3 linked regions of the Homo sapiens genome follow. The protein of the gene in region 1 interacts with the protein of each later gene in a pairwise test. Each region holds a gene or a part of one and is shown in the gene's direction. Other genes may lie near its edges.

The links.
Region 2: the proteins of PAX2 (region 1) and IL13RA2 interact in a two-hybrid assay, tested with the Homo sapiens proteins (one large-scale study listed by BioGRID and IntAct).
Region 3: the proteins of PAX2 (region 1) and PRDM14 interact in a two-hybrid assay, tested with the Homo sapiens proteins (one large-scale study listed by BioGRID and IntAct).

The regions. Positions count from the first base shown.
Region 1 is NC_000010.11:100,807,983-100,811,632, forward strand, and holds part of PAX2 (paired box protein Pax-2), read left to right. Parts: intron 1-1,127; coding exon 1,128-1,254; intron 1,255-3,650. UniProt on the Homo sapiens protein: Transcription factor that may have a role in kidney cell differentiation. Has a critical role in the development of the urogenital tract, the eyes, and the CNS.
Region 2 is NC_000023.11:115,003,365-115,007,649, reverse strand, and holds the end of IL13RA2 (interleukin-13 receptor subunit alpha-2 precursor), read left to right. Parts: intron 1-2,334; coding exon 2,335-2,453; intron 2,454-3,543; coding exon 3,544-3,570; 3' UTR 3,571-3,668; downstream 3,669-4,285. UniProt on the Homo sapiens protein: Cell surface receptor that plays a role in the regulation of IL-13-mediated responses. Functions as a decoy receptor that inhibits IL-13- and IL-4-mediated signal transduction via the JAK-STAT pathway and thereby modulates immune responses and inflammation.
Region 3 is NC_000008.11:70,061,190-70,064,839, reverse strand, and holds part of PRDM14 (PR domain zinc finger protein 14), read left to right. Parts: intron 1-3,650. UniProt on the Homo sapiens protein: Transcription factor that has both positive and negative roles on transcription. Required for the maintenance of embryonic stem cell identity and the reacquisition of pluripotency in somatic cells.

The DNA.
Region 1 (3,650 bases):
GGAGGAGCTGGCCGAGGCGGGCGGCTCAGTGCACCCTCCCTGAGTCCCCGCCTGTATTACAATGAATAACCTTTATTTACTTTCATTAGACTATTAAACACCAGCACAGTCATTTTTCCCCCTGAAACTCGGAGCAGGGCCCATAAAGCAAATCCGAAGCCTAATTGAGTTCATTTTAATTTCTCTCCGATCACAGCGAATTACTCTGGTGATAAATCAGGGGGCAGCTTCACCCCCAGTAGAAGGCCTAATTTGCAGCTAATTACAAAACTGATTTCTACAGGAAGATCAATACGAGAAGGAATTGGAAATGACGAGGCAATCCCGTCCAGCCATGGAGGGGAGGGGGTACTCTAGGGGGGCCAGGAAGCGGAAGGGAAAAAAACAGACCCGAAAGAGCAGGAAATCAGTTTTAATTTAACGTAATATTAATCAGAGCAACTTTTCCTGCTTTGTGCAGGCTCCCGGTCTGCCCAGCTCTGGGGTCTGGCTTGGCCGTGGCTGCAATAAAAAGGCAATTACCCGAGTGTTTCAGGCAGGACACCCTTTCAGAGTCAATGACTGGCCCCCTCCTACCCTTCTGTTAGCCATGTGGACTCTCCCCCTCCCCAATTTCATACCCCAGTGCACAGGCAGACAGCGAGGGGCCCATGGGGCTGTCATTGTTTGTTTTTAAAAAAGGGGCGCCCATACCCGATCAGCCAGCAGTGCCAGGCTGAAGGCCCCACTAGGCCCTTCTCCCAGCTACTGGCTCTGCCAGTCATGTCATGGTTCCCCCTCCTCCCCAAGGCTCCTCGACATCCCATGCCTCTCAACAAGGGTATCCCCACTACTACACCCTACCCGCAGGGGTGCTTAGGCAGGAGATGCTACAGAAACATAAAGGGTGCTGGCATTAAGTGCCCAAAATGTGTAAAGGGTGCTGTGCCTCCGGTTTCACCAAGTCAGGTCTACTACCCGCACAAAACTTGCCATCATCCACCAAGCCCCCGCATCTCCCCTCTGCCCCACCATCTCTTTCTACCCCATCTGGGCGGGCTCCCCTGTTCCTCCTCCCCATCTGCACACCGAGCCCTTTCTCTGTGCGTGCATCAATAGAGAGCTGTCACTTTTCTCTCTCCTCCCAGGGGAACGAGTACTCCCTCCCAGCCCTGACCCCTGGGCTTGATGAAGTCAAGTCGAGTCTATCTGCATCCACCAACCCTGAGCTGGGCAGCAACGTGTCAGGCACACAGACATACCCAGTTGTGACTGGTAAGGGGGCTTCCAGGAGGGTGGGGGCACTGCGTTCAGTGGAGGGTGCCTCAGCCCATGCCATCTGAGGCCCAGTGTGAGGAGCAGGTCCCCCACCGTGATATTTACAGAGAGAACGAGGCTTCTAAAACCAGGGTGCTTCCTGAACAGGGGTGTGCAGATGTGGGGAGAAAAAAACTGGGGTCAGGGCATCTGTGGGCTTCAACCTGGAAAGGCTGATGCTAGGAGGGGCTGTTGCCAGTTCTTCCTCCTGTCCTTCGCCTCTCCCTTTGTCTATTTCTCTTCCCTCTCCCAAGTTGCCCAGAATCATGAGCCTCTTGTTAGGATGTCTGCAGAAAGCAAATAAGCCAGGCTGGTGAGAGTGGAGCATGGGTACCCAGTGTCCAGCCTCCACACTTGGGTCTCCAAGGCTCCTGGGGGACCCGCTTACCGCTCCCTCCAGGCAGCATGGGTGATCATGGCTTTGGGCTTGAGGGCATGGCACCCAGCTCTGTGGAGTTTGAGATGAGTACAATTATTCCAGCCTTCCTCCTGCTTCCCAGAGAGGTCAGTGACACCAAGGCTTGATTTCAAGGCCAGGTAGGATCAGGCTTGGCCCACAATCAAATGCAGAGCTAGGGGCGCCATGGCCAGGAGCCCCTACAAATGAAGAGCAGCAGGGCCAGTTAGTTTGGAAGGGGAGGTGGAGTCCAGGGAAGGCCGCAGAGCTCCAGGCTGTGGAATGCACGTGCCACTGCAGAAGGGTTTCCAGGCCAGGAGACTGCCCAAATGGGAGAGACACGCATTGAGGTGTTATTAAAATTCACCTAATTATTCTGGAGACACTAAAGCCAATGTGCCGTTTGTTCCTTGGGAGACAGGATGATTGAGAAGGGTCTCGGTGGGGATTGGGAGACACTGAGGCGTTACCTGCAGAGCGAGGCAAGCGGAGGTGGCCTGCGGACCCAGCAGCAGGGCTGCAGAGCCAGCGGCAAAGGCAGGGAACAGGCACCGCCCACTCTAGGACTGGGCCCTGGTTCTGCCTGTGAGCTGGTCTGAGTGCGGCTGCATTTGAGCCTGAGCTGGGCTCAGTGGCCACCCAGCCTCCACCTGGGGGCTTAGGAGAGCCCTGTCAGTTTTCCCAGCCTCTCCCTAAGGGGCTGTACTGGTACAACTGTTTCCAGCCTAGATCTTTGGCTAGGGAGTCAGAGGTTGAATTCTAGAAGTGTTGGAGACCTGGACTGGGCTTTCGGGAGTGACGACCTTAGCTGGGTTAGCTGGGCCAGGACACAGCCCATGACCAAATGGCCCTCAGCATGAGCCATCCTTCGCCCAGCTGGGAAGCTCTCTGACCTGCTAGGTATTCTGACCCAAGGCAGAGAGACGGCCCAGGCCAGGCCACCTTTCTCCTGACCTGCTCAGAAGTACAGTGGTCACTTCCCAAAGATGGCCACTCCAGGCACTGTTCAAAGAGAACCCGGGAGACTTCTCTAACCCCATCTGCTGCCCAGCGCTCAGGCCATAGTCTAGAAGGCAAGGGCTTCCTAGGGTGGAGCTATGGATCTTCAGGGTAGGGCTCCTGCCACAGGAGACCCAGGGGCTGGTACAGAGAAGTGCCTCCACCTTGAGCAGCCCCCACCCGCCTCCCCCCCATGGCCCTGGAACAGTCCCAGCTCAGCCTGGGAACATCTCCGGCTGATCCATCTGGATCCAAGTGTGAGAAAAGTTCATTTCAGACCCAGCTTGACATTCCCAGGTGGCAAGTTAGCACTAACATCTCAATCTGTATGCGACATTTCAATCAAGCGAGGAGTAACAAAAGCAGAACCATTAACATTCGGAGCTGTTCACCAGTGGTAATGACGGGGAAACTCGCTCAGAAACTGGAAATTACCAAAAAGAGACAAGTGTGTGGAGAGGTGGGGGAGGGAAGATGGGGATAGGGGTAGGGAATGATTTTTCCACACTTAGGCCAAGATCCACTGTTTGGATTAATAGTGCCATTACCCAAGAAAGAGCTGCAGATTATGCTCATTCTTAAAATGTTTTTGCTGGCAATTAAACTGCTGCAGTTATTGATCTTTGTTGATTTTATGTCCTCCTAATTTGCATAATCTATTAAAGATGAATGATTTATGATGTGTTTATTATGGGGACAAACAGAATTTGCTAGAGGTACTGTCAAGGTGAGCCATGGGGCATTGCTCAGAGACTCCATATGCCATCTCAGCAGTGGGTCCAGCATGTTGGCCTTCAGGCCAGGATATTGTGGGTAGTAGTGAGCAGTGATGCAAGGAGAACAGAAACAGGAGAGTGGACTTTGGGTGAGTTCTTCTAGAAAGATACTGGCATCTGTGAGAACTGGGCTCCAGGCAGAGCTGGAGTGCGGGAGAGGCCCTTAGTGTATTTGTGGACAC
Region 2 (4,285 bases), on another chromosome or scaffold:
TTTAATCAATATTTTCATATGCTTTCAGTATTCAAGAGAACAGAAATCTTAAAGCAAGTATAGATCAGCATACATTTGTTTCTGGGTGTCTAATACTATTCAAAAGGAATATTTTTCTAATTAAAAGGTCATGAATAGTAAAATACATATTCATTCCATTCACTTCTAACACTGATTTAAAGTGATTTGTGATAAAGTCATTTAAATTACATAGCAATATAAACTAAAAAGCCTAAAGAATGAGGTAAAATGTGATTGTGCTTCACAATGTATTAGCTTTAAGAGTAGAAATTACTAATAAATGTTCAAAATTGAAGGAAATCAACTCAGCATTGCTCTTTCAGGTACATAGATATAGATGCAGCTCTAAATAAATATACTGATGCTGATACAGACAGATACTGCCATATCTATCAATCATTCATCTCCTTTCATGTTGTTCTACTATAGTGGAATCTCTATTATCTCCCTACGAATACAGTGGTATCATTGATCCCTTTCATTCATCAAATATTTATTAAGCACCTACTATGTATCAGACTCTTTTCAAGCATTACAGATATGGCAGTAAAGAAATCTCTACCCTCAGTGAACTTACATTTTATTTCCAATTGGGTAGAGATAGGCAATAAACGAGAAGCCTAATAGATTATATAATCACTAAGGATTATGGAGAAAAAATAGCAAGACAGTGGAAAACTCAACCAAGAGCTATATGGAATCAGAAAGAAGACTTACTAGTTTTATGTTTTTCATTTTTGTTACTGTTTTAAAAAATCAGGAAACTCTAAAGTTATGTCCTGAACTATATCTCGTCATTAGTCAATGCATTGTATAAAGTGGTTATGGTGAGTTTTTAGCCATATCCTCAAAAAATATATTCTTTTCTGTATTTTACATGCAATCTTATCAATGATAGTGATGCCTAAGATTTCTCTTGCTTTGAGGGAAATCTTTTCCTTTTTTTGGTACAGAGTCTTGCTCTATCACCCAGGCTGGAGTGCAGTGGCATGATGTTGGCTCTCTGTCACCTCTGCCTCTTGGGTTCAAGCGATTCTCGTGCCTCAGCCTCCTGAGTAGCTGGGATTACGGGCATGCACCACCACGCCTGGCTAATTTCTGTATTTTTAGTAGAGACAGAGTTTCACCGTGTCGGCTAGGCTGGTCTTGAACTCCTGGCCTCAAGTGATCCGTCCACCTCGGTCTCACAAAGTGTTGAGATTACAGGCATGAGCCACTGTGCCCAGCCCTCTTCATAGAATCTTAATGACTTTGAAATTAGAAACAAGGAATTTCTTGAGTTGCATGTGGTCTCAGTTCTTTAGGACATTTCTTATTGGATGTTTCAAGTTATAGAAAAATAGGACAATAATATTTTTGGAAATAAAAGTATGTCCTCTTCAGGATTGACTCTGTATGGGGAAAGCCAGTAGAACTTCAGCAAAGGAGCTTCCTGCCTTCCCACTGTTAATTTTGCATGACAGATAACTTACATCAGTAATTTCTCTGGATTATATTCTTGTAAATCTTCTCTGAACACGTGAATTTGACTGATAATTTTCTAATAGAAAACAAGATCGTGAGGAAATAGGACAAAGAAAAAGGTGGGATCAAGAGAGCTTTGTAGATGCGTGGCTAAGATTCAAGATCTTTTATATTACTCCAAAACAAGTGAGAGGTACTAGTTTAGGGAGACCAAACTTCGTCTGCTTTTTAAGTTTGCCTAGTGATTGCTCATTTCTTGCTATGCAGAAGAACCATTAAAACTCCATCCCTAAACTAACAAAGCAAAATCAAAAAGAAAAGAAAAACCTTATCCCTCCCTTTGGTCTTTAAAATATGAGACAACTTTAAAAAGGTAACCTTAAAAGATGATTTCCATTACTCACACAGGAATTTTTATTGAAGGATACCTCTTGCTTGGTACAGTATCCTATGATCTAAGTACACGTTTGACTTACTGAGAGTTAAGAGACAGACACACAGGACATGTTTGTTTAATCACTTGGCTAATATTTTGTCATTTTTAAATGGAGAATTCACAAGGTCAAATATAAACAAACTCATATCAGGAAATAAGAATTGTGTTTGGGGAAGTTATTTTTCTAAGTGAAAATAAGACATGTCACAGTTCAGTAAAGTACTTTTCTATATAAAAATTGCACAAATGAAAGGAACGCTATACTCAAACACAATTGTGGTATTTATGCACTGGCAAATATGACAGGGGTTTCCAAGCTCAACTCAGTTCTGAAGTATTTATAAAATAATTCAGTTTCAAAAATAGTGGCAAATGTCTAACACTTCCCCTTTCCGTGTGATTTTTAATCCTAGGTGAAGACCTATCGAAGAAAACTTTGCTACGTTTCTGGCTACCATTTGGTTTCATCTTAATATTAGTTATATTTGTAACCGGTCTGCTTTTGCGTAAGCCAAACACCTACCCAAAAATGGTAAGATGTGTAACATTATGATGTTTAGCCTGAGAATAGGAGATTTTTAAAATGTTCTGCACTTAGAACTGATGGAGATACATTTTATAATTTTGCTTGTTCGCTGTGGGTGTACAATTGATTCCGTATGGATTATGATGTTATCTTCAGAAAATACAGCAATTTTTAAAAATTAAGCTTACAAGACTTCATTTTGAGGTGGATTTACTTTTGTCGAAATCAAACTTTAAACATGAAATACTATTTGGCCCTAGATTAGAGAATGGTATACGGAAAGAGTTACAAGAGAAAAGCAGGATTGGGAGAAATAGAAGAGTGAATTAAAATGATCATAGACTGAAACACATATTACCAGTGTGCCACAGGCACAAGAACACATGCAAATGATAAAGCATGGTGCCTGCCTTTGGAGCACACACTCAAGTTAAGGGAGACAGGATCCATACAAAAAAATATAACCTTTGAGATGATTTTAGATGATTGCCATTTGAGTCGTGCAGATAATGCTATAGAATTTCAGAAAACAATAGGACCACTCTGGGTTGGGGGGCTTTAAGGAGGAGTTGTAACCTGGAGAAAAATATCTTTTTGGGACAGGGTCTCATTCTGTCACTCAGGCTGGAGAGGAGTGGTGCAATCATGGTTCACTGCAGCCTTGGTATCTAGGGCTCAAGCAATCCTCCTGCCTCAGCCTCCTGGGTAGCTGGGACTACAGGCAGGCACCAACATAGCGGGACTCCATCTCTATAAAAAATTTAAACATTAGCCAGACACAATGGCTAATGTTTAGATTTTTTATAGAGATGGAGTCCCGCTATGTTGCCCAGGCTGGTCTCAAACTCCTGGGCTCAAGCAATTCCTCCCACTTTGGCCTCCCAAAGTGCTGGGATTACAGGTGCCAGCAACTGTGCCCAGCTGAGAAAAGATATCTCAATGCCATATCTTTTCAAGATAGAGAGAAAAGTGAATGTGTATAGAATGCTTCACTTTGTTTGCTGAATGCTCTTGTGCTTATTCTCTGAGTTGTTAATCTTCAGTGAAATAGTTTGTGTTATTAGAGATGACTTGTTAATAACAGAGTTCTTTCTAGATTCCAGAATTTTTCTGTGATACATGAAGACTTTCCATATCAAGAGACATGGTATTGACTCAACAGTTTCCAGTCATGGCCAAATGTTCAATATGAGTCTCAATAAACTGAATTTTTCTTGCGAATGTTGAATACGTCTTATTTTTAAATATTGTTGTATTTAAATAGGCTTTTGAGTACTCAAAGCCTCAGCTAGTAGTACATTTTCTGGATTCTATTAACAGTTTCTTTTCTCATAAATTCATAGTGAGAGTGCTGCACGTAGTTCTCCAATCAAGGTATGAGTCAGGTTTTATATTTATGATGTATTAATAAAACAATGTGACTTCACAGATTGCACTAAGCCACAGAGATATTGTCAGATCTTGGAAAATGAGATTCTAGTTTTTGTTGTTGTTTGTTTTAAACTGCACTTGGGATGAAAGTATACAGTATGAATAAAACTGTTTGGCTTTAGGCTGGGCGCAGTGGCTCATGCCTGTAATCCCAGCACTTTGGGAGGCCAAGGCAGGTGGATCACCTGAGGTCAGGAGATCGAGACCAGCCTGGCTAACATGGTGAAACCCCATTTCTACTAAAAATACAAAAAATTAGCCAGGCATGGTGGCGCGTACCTGTAATCCCAGCTACACAGAAGGCTGAGGCAGGAGAATCGCTTGAACCTGGGAGGCGGAGGTTGCAATGAGCCGAGATCATGCCATTGCATTCCAGCTTAGGCAACAAGAGTGAAACTCTGTCTCAA
Region 3 (3,650 bases), on another chromosome or scaffold:
GTTTAAAAAAAAAATGGCCCAGGCGTGGTGGCCCACGCCTGTAATCCCAGCACTTTGGGAGGTGAGGCGGGCGGATCACGAGGTCAGGAGATCATAGCCATCCTGGCTAACACGGTGAAACCTCTTCTCTACTAAAAATACAAAAAAATTAGCCGGGCGTGGTGGCGGGCCCCTGTAGTCCCAGCTACTTGGGAGGCTGAGGCAGGAGAATGGCGTGAACCCAGCAGGGGGAGCTTGCAGTGAGCTGAGATTGCGCCACTGCACACCAGCCTGGGCGACAGAGCGAGATTCCGTTTCAAAAAAAAAAAAAAAAAAAGTAAATTGCATCTGCATGCCTGTTTTCCTGCTAGGCTGAGATGCTTCAGGGCAGGAAATAACCCTAAACACTTTAGTATCTCGTGCTTCTGGATCCCAGTGCGTACTGACTGAGAGGAAGACATTAGAACTAAGCTAGAAAAAGCTGCTTAGGGATGAGATGAAATAAGGCACGTGTAAGAGGGAGAGAGGGAAGGCAATCAGGCTCAGGGAACAGTGAAGCAGAAGGCAAGGAAATGTCCAGAAATTAGGGGGTAAATAATAAGCAGTCATTATTTATCTAATGATAAATAATGAGCAGTCAGCCGTCATTATTTATCTAATGATAAATAATGGTCCCAATGATGAGGGGCTGTCAGGATTGTTTTGGTGAACTATCTTCCTACTCCCCCAGGTATCTTATGTCCATGCTGGGTTCCCCCCGCCACTGAACCATCATAAGCCCTCATTCTGTTGCTTGTTCTGATCGCCTCTGATATCTGCATACAGGTTGAGTATCCTTTTTCTGAAATGCCTGGGACCAGAAGTGTTTTGGTGGGTGGTGTGGGTGTGGGAATGTAGGTGAAGATAGGAATGGAGGCAAAAATGGTTGGGATTCTCTATGATCTGTGGAGCTCTAAGTTGTCTCCTACTTAGCACCAAACCAAGACCTGTTGGTCACTTCCTGAAATGTACCAACTCCTTTCGAAATAAAAGTCAACAGGCTGGGCGTGGTGGCTCACACCTGTAACCCCAACACTTTGGGAGGCCAAGGTGGTTGGGTCACCTGAGGTCAGGAGTTCACGACCAGCCTGGCCAACATGGTGAAACTCCGTCTCTACTAAAATACAAAAAATTAGCTGGGTGTGGTGGTGCATGCCTGTAATCCCAGCTACTCAGGAGGCTGAGACAGGAGAATCGCTTGAACCCAGGAGCAGAGGTTGCAGTGAGCTGAGATGGCGCCACTGCACTCCAGCCTGGGTGACAGAGTGAGACTCCATCTCAAAAAGAAAAATGAAAGAAAGAAAAGTGAACAATGGATTTGAGAAAAGTATCTGCTTAGTAACTGGCAAGATGGTTATTATCCTTTTGAGAAATCATTATTATTTTTTGAGATAGGGTCTCACTCTGTCACCCAGACTGGAGTACAGTAGTGTAATCTAGGCTCACTGCAACCTCTGCCTCCAGGGTTCAGGCATTTCTCCTGCCTCAGCCTCCCGAGTAGCTGGGATTACAGGCATGCACCACCACACCCAGCTAATTTTTGTATTTTTAGTAGAGATGGGGTTTCGCCATTTTGGCCAGGCTGGTCTTGAACTCCTGGACTCAAGTGATCCACCCACCTTGGCCTCCCTAAATTCTGGGATAACAGGCATGAGACACCATGGCCGGCCATTTTTGAGAAATTTTTTCACCGTATGTATCAAATTATTACAATGTTTGTAACTTTGATGTCTCAGTAATACTCTTCTGGAAATCTATTATCGAGAAATAGTCCAAAAGGAAAAAGCTATGCTTATGAAAATTTTTAACTGTGGCACCACTCTTGTGAGTGAAAAATCACAAACAACCTAAATGTTCAGTAGTATAATAATTAAGTAAATGATGATACAGGCTCAGCAGCTCCAATCAAGAAATCCCAAATCCAAAATGCTCTAAAATCTGAAACTGAGCACTGACATATTGCCAAAAGTGGGAATTTCCACACACCAGTACTTGACACAAACTTTGTTTCATGCACAAAATTATTTAAAATATTGTGTAAAATTACCTTCAGGTGGGCCAGGCACGGTGGCTCATGCCTGTAATCCCAGCGCTTTGGGAGGCCGAGGCAGGCAGATCACCTGAGATCAGGAGTTTGAGAACAGCATGACAAACATGGTGGAACCCCGTCTCTACTAAAAATACAAACAAATTAGCTGGGCATGGTGGCAGATGCCTGTAATCTCAGCTACTCAGGAGGCTGGAGCCGGATAATCGCTTGAAACCGGGGGCGGAGGTTGCAGACCGAGCAAGATTCCGTCTCAAAAAAAAAAAAATTACCTTCAGGCTATGTGTATAAAGTATGTATAAAACAAAACATAAATGGACTTTATATTTAGACTTTGGTTCCATCCCCAAGATACCTCATTATGTATATGAAATATTCCAAAGTTCGAAAAAAACCTGAAATCCAAAACACTTCTGGTCCCAAGCATTTCAGAAAAAGGATACTCAACCTATTTGTTATTAACATGGAATAGTATGCCGATATCAGAGGCAATCAGAGCAAGCAACAGAATGAGGGCTTATGATGGTTAAGTGCAGGGGATACCCAGCATGCAGATAAGATACTTGTGTTCCAGTTCTGAACCAAGTGATACCTGATGCTTACAGCATTATTATGAGGACATATATTTTGGACAATGGAGGGAAACTTGTAAACAACTTAATTTGTTGGGAATAATTATAAATGAATGTTAATTTGTTAATCTGTTAATATGAATGGTTTGGATGTGATAAAAAGGAAAGAAAAATTAAAATTCCATTGCATTCTCAAATGAGTTTTTTTCCCCAAAGGCTTTTTGGTGGGGATTGGTGGTAGGTGGGAGCCTTCCTCTTTAAGGTCTTGAGTGGTGAGGGAAGGGTCTAGACTCTATGTGGGCGGGTTATTTGAATATGCAAGCATTCCCCTCTTGTGAGGGAGAGAGGGAATTTGGGTGTGTGTTTTGGGGTGTGGAGGTGTGAAGAGCTAGGGGGAGGGAGGATAGGGAACAAGATAAAATTAGGAAGGATAGGGAACAAGATGAAATTAGGTTTCATTTCTACCTAAGTGGTTGTTCTTAAGCGAACTCAGTATTGAAACTTTATTCTGAATTTTGGTGTGCTTTAGTGCTTAGGTTTGTAAAATTGCTGACCCTCTCTTCCCTTCCCACCCCAGGAAGCAGGAAGGCCAGGTATTTCTGACCAATAAAAATTCTACCTCTGTGCCAAAAAAGTGTCCCAGCACGGGGATTCTGAGAGTATTAGCACCTCAATGAAAGTGATAGACAGAGCAGGGCGATGGATCAGCTTGGGGCTGGCAGTTGCCTTCCTGGTTATTTACTTAATGAATAGTTTATTTCCTTAGCCACCTGTTAAACGTGCCTGGGATGTAGTTGTCAACTAACAAAGCCCCTGATGGACAGCTTCCCTGCTGTCCTGATGCTGAGAAGATTTCTATCTGCAGACTCTTGCATAGACTCACTCTTGGCTGCTCTTCCTCCCTGGGGTCAAACAATGAGATCTCTGTGGTGCATTCATAGTCAAAGCCACTTTATCCTCTGGGATCCAGAGTGTCCTCTGCAGGGATGCTTTTGTAGGTGGCCCCTGTTCTC